Linked DNA regions of Homo sapiens. The protein of the gene in region 3 purifies or fractionates together with the protein of the main gene of each other region. This does not show direct contact. Each region holds a gene or a part of one and is shown on either strand. Other genes may lie near its edges.

Region 1 (3,500 bases), on a different chromosome or scaffold from region 3:
TGTGGTTTATTTTTTTACTTTACTTATGGTTTATTTTGTTGTGTAGAAATTTTAAATTTTAGGTGAAATGTAGTCAAAGTTATCAATCTTTTCCTTACACTCTGTAAATTGTCATCTTTTTCTTAACTGCCTTCCTCTAACCTCCACCCACAACAAAACCTAATCCTCTCTGCTATCAAACACTTCACCTATATTGTACCTTCTTCTTTTAACCACGTCTATGAGCTAATGAGGCTACTAGTGTCACAGAAAAGAAGCAAGCCTTGGATTCAAGCCCTGGCTTTGTCATGAGAGGCAGTATAGCATAGTGATGAAGAAATGGATTATGAGCTACAGTGTTGATTTGAAAATTGAGCCCAGCACTTACTAGCTGTATAATCTCAGGCAAGTTACTGGACCTCTGTGTGACTCAGTGTCCTCATCTATAAAATGGGGATAATAATAGTATCTCCCTCATGAAGTTGGATCTGGCATAAGGATTAAATGAGTTAATACAGGTACTGCCCTAATAATAGTGTCTGGCACATAATAAGCATTATATGTGTGTTTGCCATTATTATTGCTAACTCTGTAACTACGGGCAAGTTATCTCCTTAATCTCAGTTTTCTCTTTTGTAAGATAAGGCTACCTTGGAGTATGGGAAATAAAATAGCATAAAATACTAAAATAGTGCTTATCTCCACGCTTGGCACTTATAAGGTATTCAACAGATGTTAGTGTTCTCTCTTCTTCCTCATTGGGGCTAGGGACCATGGCCTTATCTTTAAATCCTCAGCCTCTAGCACAGAGTCTAGCATAAAATAAGGTGCTAAAAATTGTTTGAGCACCTGCTGTGTGCCAAGGCCTCTGCCAGGCACTAAAGACACTGAGGCACAGAGCCTGCCCCTCAGGATGTTCTCAGGCTACAAGTAAGAATGAATGAGACAGAGAAACCACCCTGACAACCCTCAGATGAAAAGCATGGGCCAGTGCAATGGTTTTCACACCAGGCTCCCTAGAGTCCATATTTAAAATCAACATATATGACTGCTTTACTATTTATCATTTCTGATTGAGCATATATATCAATGATCCTCACTGAGCATCAGCTTCCTCATTTGAAAAGTGGGGATACTTTGCAAGGGTTGTTGCAAGAATGAGATATGATCAAGTACACACACAGTCTTTGGTACAGCACCTGGCACACGGACAGCACTCTCTTCTCCCCTCAAACACAGGCCACTGTTGGGGCCTTTTCCTCAGGAGTACTGGGTGGACCTCTGAGTTTTTCTCAGACAGCATTAAGGTCAGGGATGACAACAATCCCCGGCCCAATCCTGTTTTAGACTTCCACTGCTGGTGACCAAATCCTAAAAGGAGCCAGCTCATCTGAGGGCAGAGCTGGAACTCAGCATATCAATGAAAAAGTGTGAGAATACCTTCTCCTCCAACATCAAATGGTCCAATCTCCACCTAGTCAAAGTGACTAAATTTGTCTCAAGTTGTAAAGTTATTTGAAGAATTTTTAAAAATCATTCTTTTTATTTTTATTTTTTAGTAGAGATAGGGTCTCCTTATGTTGCCCAGGCTGGTCTCAAACTCCTTGGGCTCAAGCAATCCTCCTGCCTTGGCCTCCCAAAGTGTTGGGATTACAGGCGGCAGCCACTGTGCCAACCCAGCCTTTAGTAGAGACAGGGTCTTGCTATGTTGCCCAGACTGGTCTCAAACTCCTAGCCTCTGGCAATCCTCCCATCTTAGCCTTCCAAAGTGCTGGGATTATAGGCATGAGCCACTGCGCTCAGCCCCATTTAAAGACCTTTGAAGGATATACTAGTACTTGTAATGATGACGTGGCACTAATATAACACATAATTGTATTCCTCCAAAATTACTTGCAAGGGTTGCTACTGAAGTTCAGAAAAGTCTAATAATACATGGCATGCCCCACCAATAGTGCAGTTCTCCACATTTCCAGGCAACCCTCACACTCACCCAAGTTCAACTGAAATACGGTAAACAAATCAGTACTAAACATACCATAGAGATCTGGATTGCTGCGGATATATAACCTCACAAAGTTTTTCCCGGGTATTGGCAAAAGAGATCCTTTAATTCTGTCAAAGACCTGGAAAACATCATAGCAGTAATTCTACTGAAGTTTTTTAAGTTTAATAAATTCAACTACTACAAAATTGAAACTCAGTCATTAGAGCTTTTATGATAGTATTTTCAAATGCTAATAACCCTTTACTTTTGTAAGACCATTTTCAGTATATAAAGGCTTTCACATTATTTGGTTGTTCAACCATTAAAGAAACAAGTCTCCTTTACCCGTAAAAGGAAAGGTGAAATTGGTTTCCAAACCTGGTAGGTGTCCACATCAAAGAATGTTTGGTAGTATTCAAATGTCCAGAAGGGGGAGCTTTTCTTCTGTCCAGCAAGTAACTGTCAGAAATAAAATAAAACATAATGAACACATAAGCAATTTCTTAATTCCAGCTGCGTGGGGTGCAGGAGGGATCTGATCTAATGGAAAAGCAAAACGTTTGAAACAATAGGCTCTTCCACATTCAATAACCAACTCTGAAATAGCCAATTCGCAACTCTCAGCCTGATTAGAAAAACAAGCATTGGTTTTGAAGTCACACCAAAAGGGTTCAAATCCTGGCCCCTCCACTGAGGGGAGCTTTGGCAAATCACTAGACTCCTGCTGGGCTTAGTTCCCTTATCTAGATTCAACAGTATATAGAATTATGTACAATAATAAATACATATACACACATACAACACATACAGAAGGCAGTCAGTGTAAATATCTTTTCGCTTTTTTTTTTTGAGATGGCGTCTCACTCTCTTTCCCAAGCTGGAGTGCAGTAGTGCAATCATAGCTCACTGCAGCCTTGAACTCCTGGGCTCAAACAATCTTCCCACCTCAGCTTCCCAAGCAGCTGGGACTACACGCGTACACCACTATGCCCAGCTAATTGTTTAATTTTTGTAGAGACAGAGTCTCATTATTTTGCCCAGGCTGGTCTCAAACTCTTGGGCTCAAGTGATACTCCCGCCTCAGCCTCCCAAAGCACGGGGATTACAAGCGTGAGCCACTGCATCCAGCAGTGTAAATATCTCTTCCTCCCCCATCCATCCACAATCCTCCCTACTATTGCCACCTGAATTCTCAAAAATCTGATATATTGACTCACTCTAAAGTACTAAAAATATTACTACTCTGACAAAAAAAAAAATCCTATTGAGAAGAGGCACCTGAGGAGGGCCATACCCATCCCAACAACACAGCTCTTTGGTGGCAGAATGCATGCCCAATGCCAGGAATTGTGCCTGTCATCTTCAGATATCCGAAGGGAATTCATACAGCAAAAAGTACGGTGAACACTGAGCTGCTTTGCAGGACAAGGGCAGGTGCTATAGGCAGATATTTTTTGTTCATTATAAAGGAAAACGGATGGCCGATTAGAAGTAGCTGTGGTCTGCAGCACTCACAGAGAGGAGTGAAAGCGGT
Region 2 (3,500 bases), on a different chromosome or scaffold from region 3:
TTCTGGTCAGTGGGGGCACTGGGTCAGATTTATTGCACTTGCAACAGAGTTTAAATAAGTCCTGGGTGTCTGGTGCCAAGGTGAGGGAAGGGTTGGGCAGAGAGATGAGGGGCAGCATCAGTGCAGCTGGCAGGCAGAACCCAAATTCTGCAGGCCCAGGACAGTGGGCTCCCCTTTCTCTGGGGAACAGGGAGGGCCTGTGTCTGGCCAGGCTGAGGTTCCAGATCTGTTGCCATCATGGCCCCTTCAGGGTCCTGGGAAATTCCTGGCTTCTCCTAAATCAGGGTGAACTGGGCCTCCAGGATCAGGTCTGGAGCAGGCCCAAATATAGTCCTGGATCTGCCTGGATTAGGTGCCAATGTCTGAGTCTGGGTTCCAGATCAACTCCAGACCCCAGGCTGGATCTGGCCCCATTTGAGTTCTGATTCCCCTTGGAGCTGGGCTCTGGGCCCTGGGCCAGCATCTATCCTTGTGTGGCATCTGTCCTGAGCTGGTCCTGGGGCACCATGCATAGTTAGTGTTCTTTGTTGGCCCACCAGGGTGGGGCTGTCCAGAGCTGCCAGGTCTTAACTCCCCAAGTTCCAGGTTCTTAGCTGGGGGCTTCTTTTGGATCTCTGGCAAGGCTGAGGACAGATCTTTGCAGGTTGGAGCTGGACAGGAAGTCCTTGTGGCATGTCTGGCCCAAAGAACTGTGAATGGATTTCCTAGTTATCTTTCCAAGTTGTTTCAGGAAACTCTCCAAAATGCAAAGGCTTCAGGGAGGCTGGGGCCTCTGTCCCTGGATCTGAGTTCCCCCATCCATGAAGAGGGTATGTGTAAACAAGGGTCCTTCACAGTGCATGGGGGGGAGGGATCCCCAGCTCCTCACCCCCCTGGCTCTGGCCCTTCAAGTATGTCTCTGGGCTGGGGAGAGGAGCTTCTCCCTGGCCGTCAGCACCTTCAAGAAGTACCCAGACCCCTCCTTTTCAGTAGAATGAGGGTGGGGGGACTGGTTCTTCAGGAATGGGAGTCTGAAATTGGGAGGACTCAGGCATCAGAGGTGGCTGGAGGCTTGAGCTGAGCTTTTTCCATGGCGGTGCCATATGGGAGGGAGCGTTTGAAGAATCCAAGCTGATAAAGGGGAAAAGAGGGAGAGTTTAGGTACTATGGCTGCCATTTCTCCACAGCTCTTATTCCAAGAAGTAATAAGGAGGACTCTAGTGCCTCCAACCTCTACATCCTGCAAAAGTGGCCTCTGAATTCAGGCTAGGACTACCCCTCTAAGTTGTGCAATGGACCCAGGAGGACCAAACTTGGGGGTGATTTTGTATGGGGGGTATCTTTTACCAGTGCCTTTAAAATTCCCCAGTTAAGCCAGAAATGGCAGATAGGTTTGAACTCAAATGCCAAGTCTGATTGCTTAGTAGTGGCTGCTTCTGTTTGTTTGTTTGTTTTTGAGACAGGGTCTCACTCTGTTGACCAGCCTGGAGTGCAGTGGCATGATCATGGCTCACTGTAGCCTCAAACTCCTGGGCTCAAGCGATCCTCCCACCTCAGCCTCCAGAGTAGCTGGGACTATAGGCACGCACCACCAAACCTGGCTAATCTTTGTGTTTTTTTTGTAGAGACAAGGTCCTAGTGTGTTACCCAGGCTGGTCTTGAATTCCTGGGCTCAAGCTGTCTTCCCACCCTGGCCTCCCAAAATGTTGGGATTACAGGTGTGAGCCACCACACCTGGCCATGGCTGCCTCTTGAGAGAGATTCTGAAGCCACTTCTAGGAGATGATCAGTAGCCATTTCTAGGTTAGTGATGGCTGCCATGGATTTTTGGAGAAATTGACAGCACAAATGCCACGTATTTGTCATCTTTGGGTTCCAATGATTTTGCAAGTATAGGCAAACTTATCATCTTGAGTCAAGAGGACCCTTTCTAAGCTAGGGGCTATAGAATGAAGGGGGGGATCTTATAGGAAGGGTTAGGATGGGATGCATGTAGCCAGGACAGAGGTGGGGGCACATGGCTGGTGAACTGGTCTAGAGGTAGATACTTGGGACTGTGCCAGGTCAAGGGCAGAGCCTGATGAGAGGGTGGCCAAGTCACAAGCAGGATGTGGCTGACCTTGTAGAGGATGTAGATGAGTAGACCTAGGAGCAGGAGGCCAAACAGGATGGCTAGGATGATGATCCACAGTGGGACGCCATAGCTGCCTTCTGCCTTGGTCCATTGCACAGCTGTGGCCACCTGGGGAGCAAGTTGGGTGAAGTCAATGAAAGCTCAGAAGTTCTTTCTACCCTATACTTGGCCCCCACTTGTCATTGGATCTGCAGAGCCCAGTGGGCTCCCCTTTCTCTGGGGAACAGGGAGGGCCTGTGTCTGGCCAGGCTGAGGTTCCAGATCTGTTGCCATCATGGCCCCTTCAGGGTCCTGGGAAATTCCTGGCTTCTCCTAAATCAGGGTGAACTGGGCCTCCAGGATCAGGTCTGGAGCAGGCCCAAATATAGTCCTGGATCTGCCTGGATTAGGTGCCAATGTCTGAGTCTGGGTTCCAGATCAACTCCACCTCTTATTTTGAACTAACAGCATTCTGAACTTAAAAATTGAAGTTCCTAAAATGTACAATATTGTCTCTTACTTTCGGGCTTTCATATCATATCCATTTTTTTTTTTTTTTGACAGAGTCTCACTCTGTCACTCAGGCTGGAGTGCAGTGGTGTGATCTCAGCTTACTACAACCTCTGCATCCTGGTCTCAAGCGATCCTCCTGCCTCAGCCTCCCGAGTAGCTGGGACCACAGATATGCGCCACCACATCTGGCTAATTTTTGTATTTTTTGTAGAGACAGGATCTCACTATGTTGCCCAGGTTGATCTTGAACTTCTGAGCTCAAGCAATCCACTTGCCTTGGCCTTCCAAAGTGCTGGGATTACAGGTGTGAGCCACTGCGCTCAGCCTCATATCTGTTATTCACCTCTCCCCAGGATATCCCTTTCCTGAATGGCTAGCCTGGTTAGTTCCTATTTATTCTTCAGGTCTCAGCTTGAACATCACTTCTTCCAGGAAGCCTTCCCTGACCCAGTTAGACTGGGTTCAGGTGTTCCTATTATGTGTTTTCATAAATATCACCACACTTGGAACACTGTGTTGTTCCACGAGACTGTGAACACCAGGAGCAAAGATACCATGTTGATCTTGCTTACCACTCTGTCTCTGGCATCTGCACAGTGCTTGGCACATAGTACATTCTCAACAGTTGTTAACAATACCAAGGCCAGCCCTCACCCAAGTCCCAGCCCTGTTCCAGCACTCTGAGCCCTGTATTCCCTCATCCAGTCCTCTGGCCCTAGACTCACCTGACGCTCTTTTTGGGGCAGCTGCCGAGGCAGGATTCGGTAGGGCATCTTCAGGGCTTTGTACACAGCCTCACACTGCAGGCTAAATGGCTGGTGCTCCCGCTGTGGGTAGGGGAAAGTTGGTTAGCACATCCTCTCTTGGGATCCAGAGGACATAGGGTTCCCCATCG
Region 3 (3,500 bases):
AATTATAAACCTCATATTTTTTAAAATCATTGTCTAGAGGTTTTAAAACTTTCTAGCTAATTTCCCATTGATAATACGAGAGTTTAACTAATTATATGAGAAAATTCATGAAGACATTTGCCCATGAAATATTAACATATAGGTACTGTTATCATTAAAGATTCATACTTAAACCCCAGAGAAGATAAACTGTAAATATTAGACTTAAAATTATTATTCTTACCATAGTGAGTCCTTAGTTGTGTCTTTATCTCACCAATTGTTTTACTTGAACCAATGGCATTTGTCAAGGGTTCTACATCAGTCTCTATAGACATAAAACACATTTCAAAACACTTTTTAAGGTAACCATTTATGTTACACATGTATTTTAGTTCTTTTTTCTTTTGAAATTTCTTTTTCTTTTCTTTTCCTTTTTTTTTTTAGAGACAGGATCTTGTTCTGTCACTCAGGCTGGAGTGCAGAGGTGTGAACATGGCTGACTGCAGTTTCAACCTCCTGGGCTCAAGTGGTCCCCCGCCTTGGCCTCTCCAAGTAGCTGGGACTACAGGTGTGCACCACCATGCCTGGCTAATTTTTGTATTTTTTGTAGAGATAGGGTTTTGCTGTGTTGTCTTTTGAAATTTCTATATTATTTGCTGATATCTCTGTTACCTTCCTTTTCTTCCTTAAGAATAATTTCCTTTAACTCTAAGAACACACTTATAATAAGTGCTTTGAGGTTTCGTTGGCTAGGTCCAACACCTGGAACTCTCACAAACAGTTATTGTGGCATGCCCTTTTCCTTGGTGTAGGTCACACTTCACTGTTTCTTTGCATGTTAATAATTTTTGCTCAAGTTTTGACAGTTTCCGTAGTATATTGTAGCATCTCCAGGTACTGATTTCCTCCTCCTCTATCTGGGGCTTGTCATTGTTCTCTCCTTATTTATTTGCATAGCGATGTGACTGGGCTATTGTACTAAAGTCTCTTGCCTGTAGTGTGAAGTGCTACTGCTGCTCTCCAAGGGGCAGAGCCTTGAACATGCATCCAGTACCTTGGATAACATTGGTTTTAGAGGGCCGGCTTCGAATGTGTCTCTTTACCTTATTTCTCTGTTAAGCTGTCTGCCTCTTTTTGTATCACACCAGAGATAAAGAAAATTGTATAACTACATAACACCCTTACACCAAGATGAAAGCCAGTAATGTAATCTCTGAATTATGTAACACAAATAAAGTACTGTATTGCAGGTGAGATTTTATAAATTTGCCTGACATTTTTATCAAATAGAAGGAATGGATAACCAGTGAAATAATTATGTGTTATACTCCTCTTGTCATCGCAGTCTTCAGCTAGCCTTTGTGCTTTTGCCTTTCTGCTTTTGCTAATTAAATATCACTTTTCAGAAACAAAAGTAAGTAGAATAGCTTTGGAAATGCCTACATTGAGACTACTCTAAGGTAACTGTAACACTGAATTTTTATGCATTACTTTTCAAATGGATGAGTTTTAAAACCAATAATATGCTAATGTTCCACTGATAGTAAATGCTAGAGCTTAATTAAAGGATATTCATGATGAATTTTACCTATGTAACACTAACATGTAGGCACTATTGTCATTAAATGTCTATACTTAATTTAACTCAGGGAACATAAATAGGTCACAAATATTAGACTCAAAAATTATTTTTCTTACCCTGGTGACTCTTTAATTGTGCACTGATTGGTCCCTTTATTATATCTCTTCCAATAGCATCTTTTAAGAGTTCTTTATCAGTCTCTATAGAATTAAACAGATTTCAAAATACTTTATAAGGTAAACATTACCATACATGTGTATACGTGTGTGTTTAACTAATTATAGAAGGATATTCATGAAGAATTTCACCAATGTAACACTATGATATAGGTACCTATGTAATAATAACATGTAGACACTGTTGTCATTAAAGGTCTATACTTAACTCAGGGAACATAAATAGGTCACAAATATTAGACTCAAAAATTCTTTTTCTTACCCTGGTGACTCTTTAATTGTGCATTGATAGTCCCTTTATTATATGTCTTCCAATAGCATCTTTTGCTATGGAAAGTACTATGATACAGGTACTGTTGTCATTAAAGGTCTATACTTCAATTTAACTCAGGGAATATAAATAAGCCTAAATATTAGACTTGAAAAATTCTTTCTCTTACCTCGGTGACTCTTCAGTTGTGTAGTGATTGGCCCTATTATTATACCTCTTCCAATAGCATCTGCCAAGAATTCCTTATCAGTCTCTATTGAAATAAAACAGATTTCAATATATTTTATAAGGTAAACATTACCATACCTCTGTGTGTATCTGTGTGTGTGTGTATGTGTGTGTGTGTGTGTGTGTGTGTGTAATTATGGAAGGGTATTCATGAAGAATTTTACCTGTGTAATACCAACATATAGGTACTATTGCCATTAAATGTCCACACTTAATTTAACTCCAGGAATATAAATAAACCATAAATATTAGTCTTGAAATTGTTTTCTCTTACCTGGGTGACTTTTTAATTGTGTCGTGGTTGACTCCTTCATTAGACCTCTTCCAGTAGCATAGGCAAAGAAGTTCTTATCAGTCTCTATAGAAATAAAACAGATTTCAGTATATTTTGTAAGATTATCATTACCATACTTGTGTGTGTTTTTGTGTTTAATTATAGGAGGATATTCATGAATAATTTTACTTATGTAACACTATAATATAGGTAGTTTTGTTATTAAAGGTCTATACTTAATTTAACTCAGGGAATATCAATCAGCCATAAATATTAGATGTGAAAAATTCTTTTTCTTACTTTGGTGACCCTTTAGTTGTGCATTGATTGATCCCTTTATTATACCTCTTCCAGTATCATCTGCTAAGTGTTCCTTATCAGTCTCTATATAAATAAAACAGATATCAATATATTTTGAAAGGTAAACATTACCAAATCTGAGTATGTGTATGTGTTTAATTATAGGAGGATATTCATTTAGAATTTCACCTATATAATACTAACATATTGGTACTATTGTCATTAAAGGTTCATACTTAATTTAACTCCGGGAATATGAATAAACCATAAATATTAGTCTTGAAAAAAATTTTTTTTACCTTGGTGACATTTAAATTGTGTTTTAATTGACCCCTTTATTATACCTCTTCCAATAGCATCTGCTAAGAGTTCCTTATTAGTCTCTATAGAAATAAAGCAGATTTCAATATATTTTATAAGGTAAACATTTTATGTGTGTGTGTGCATGTGTAGTGCACATGTGAGTTTTTATTATTATAGTAGAAGAGTCACAACATGTCTTATTGCAGTAAGCATCACAAAACAGAATTTGAAGGGCTATTAGAACTCATATAAGCCTATTATATTGAAGTTCAGAGATGCTTCATGATTTGAACAAGACCACATCAAGATAATGACAAAATTGATGTACAAACTGACACTTTATAATTCCTTAACCACTGACTTTACCATATAATGCATCTCTTA

Evidence for each region. Proteins that work in one complex are often made in the same cells at the same time.
Region 1: the proteins of CCDC7 (region 3) and YIPF1 fractionate together in Homo sapiens (co-fractionation; one large-scale study listed by BioGRID). This does not show direct contact.
Region 2: the proteins of CCDC7 (region 3) and ITGA5 fractionate together in Homo sapiens (co-fractionation; one large-scale study listed by BioGRID). This does not show direct contact.

Annotation. Positions count from the first base shown.
Region 1 is NC_000001.11:53,876,298-53,879,797, forward strand, and holds part of YIPF1 (protein YIPF1), read right to left. Parts: intron 2,426-3,500; coding exon 2,345-2,425; intron 2,106-2,344; coding exon 2,018-2,105; intron 1-2,017.
Region 2 is NC_000012.12:54,395,267-54,398,766, forward strand, and holds part of ITGA5 (integrin alpha-5 precursor), read right to left. Parts: intron 3,433-3,500; coding exon 3,331-3,432; intron 2,222-3,330; coding exon 2,099-2,221; intron 1,111-2,098; coding exon 1,027-1,110; 3' UTR 1-1,026.
Region 3 is NC_000010.11:32,844,640-32,848,139, reverse strand, and holds part of CCDC7 (uncharacterized protein C10orf68), read right to left. Parts: intron 2,898-3,500; coding exon 2,814-2,897; intron 2,598-2,813; coding exon 2,514-2,597; intron 2,265-2,513; coding exon 2,181-2,264; intron 1,765-2,180; coding exon 1,681-1,764; intron 308-1,680; coding exon 224-307; intron 1-223. UniProt on the Homo sapiens protein: May play a role in tumorigenesis.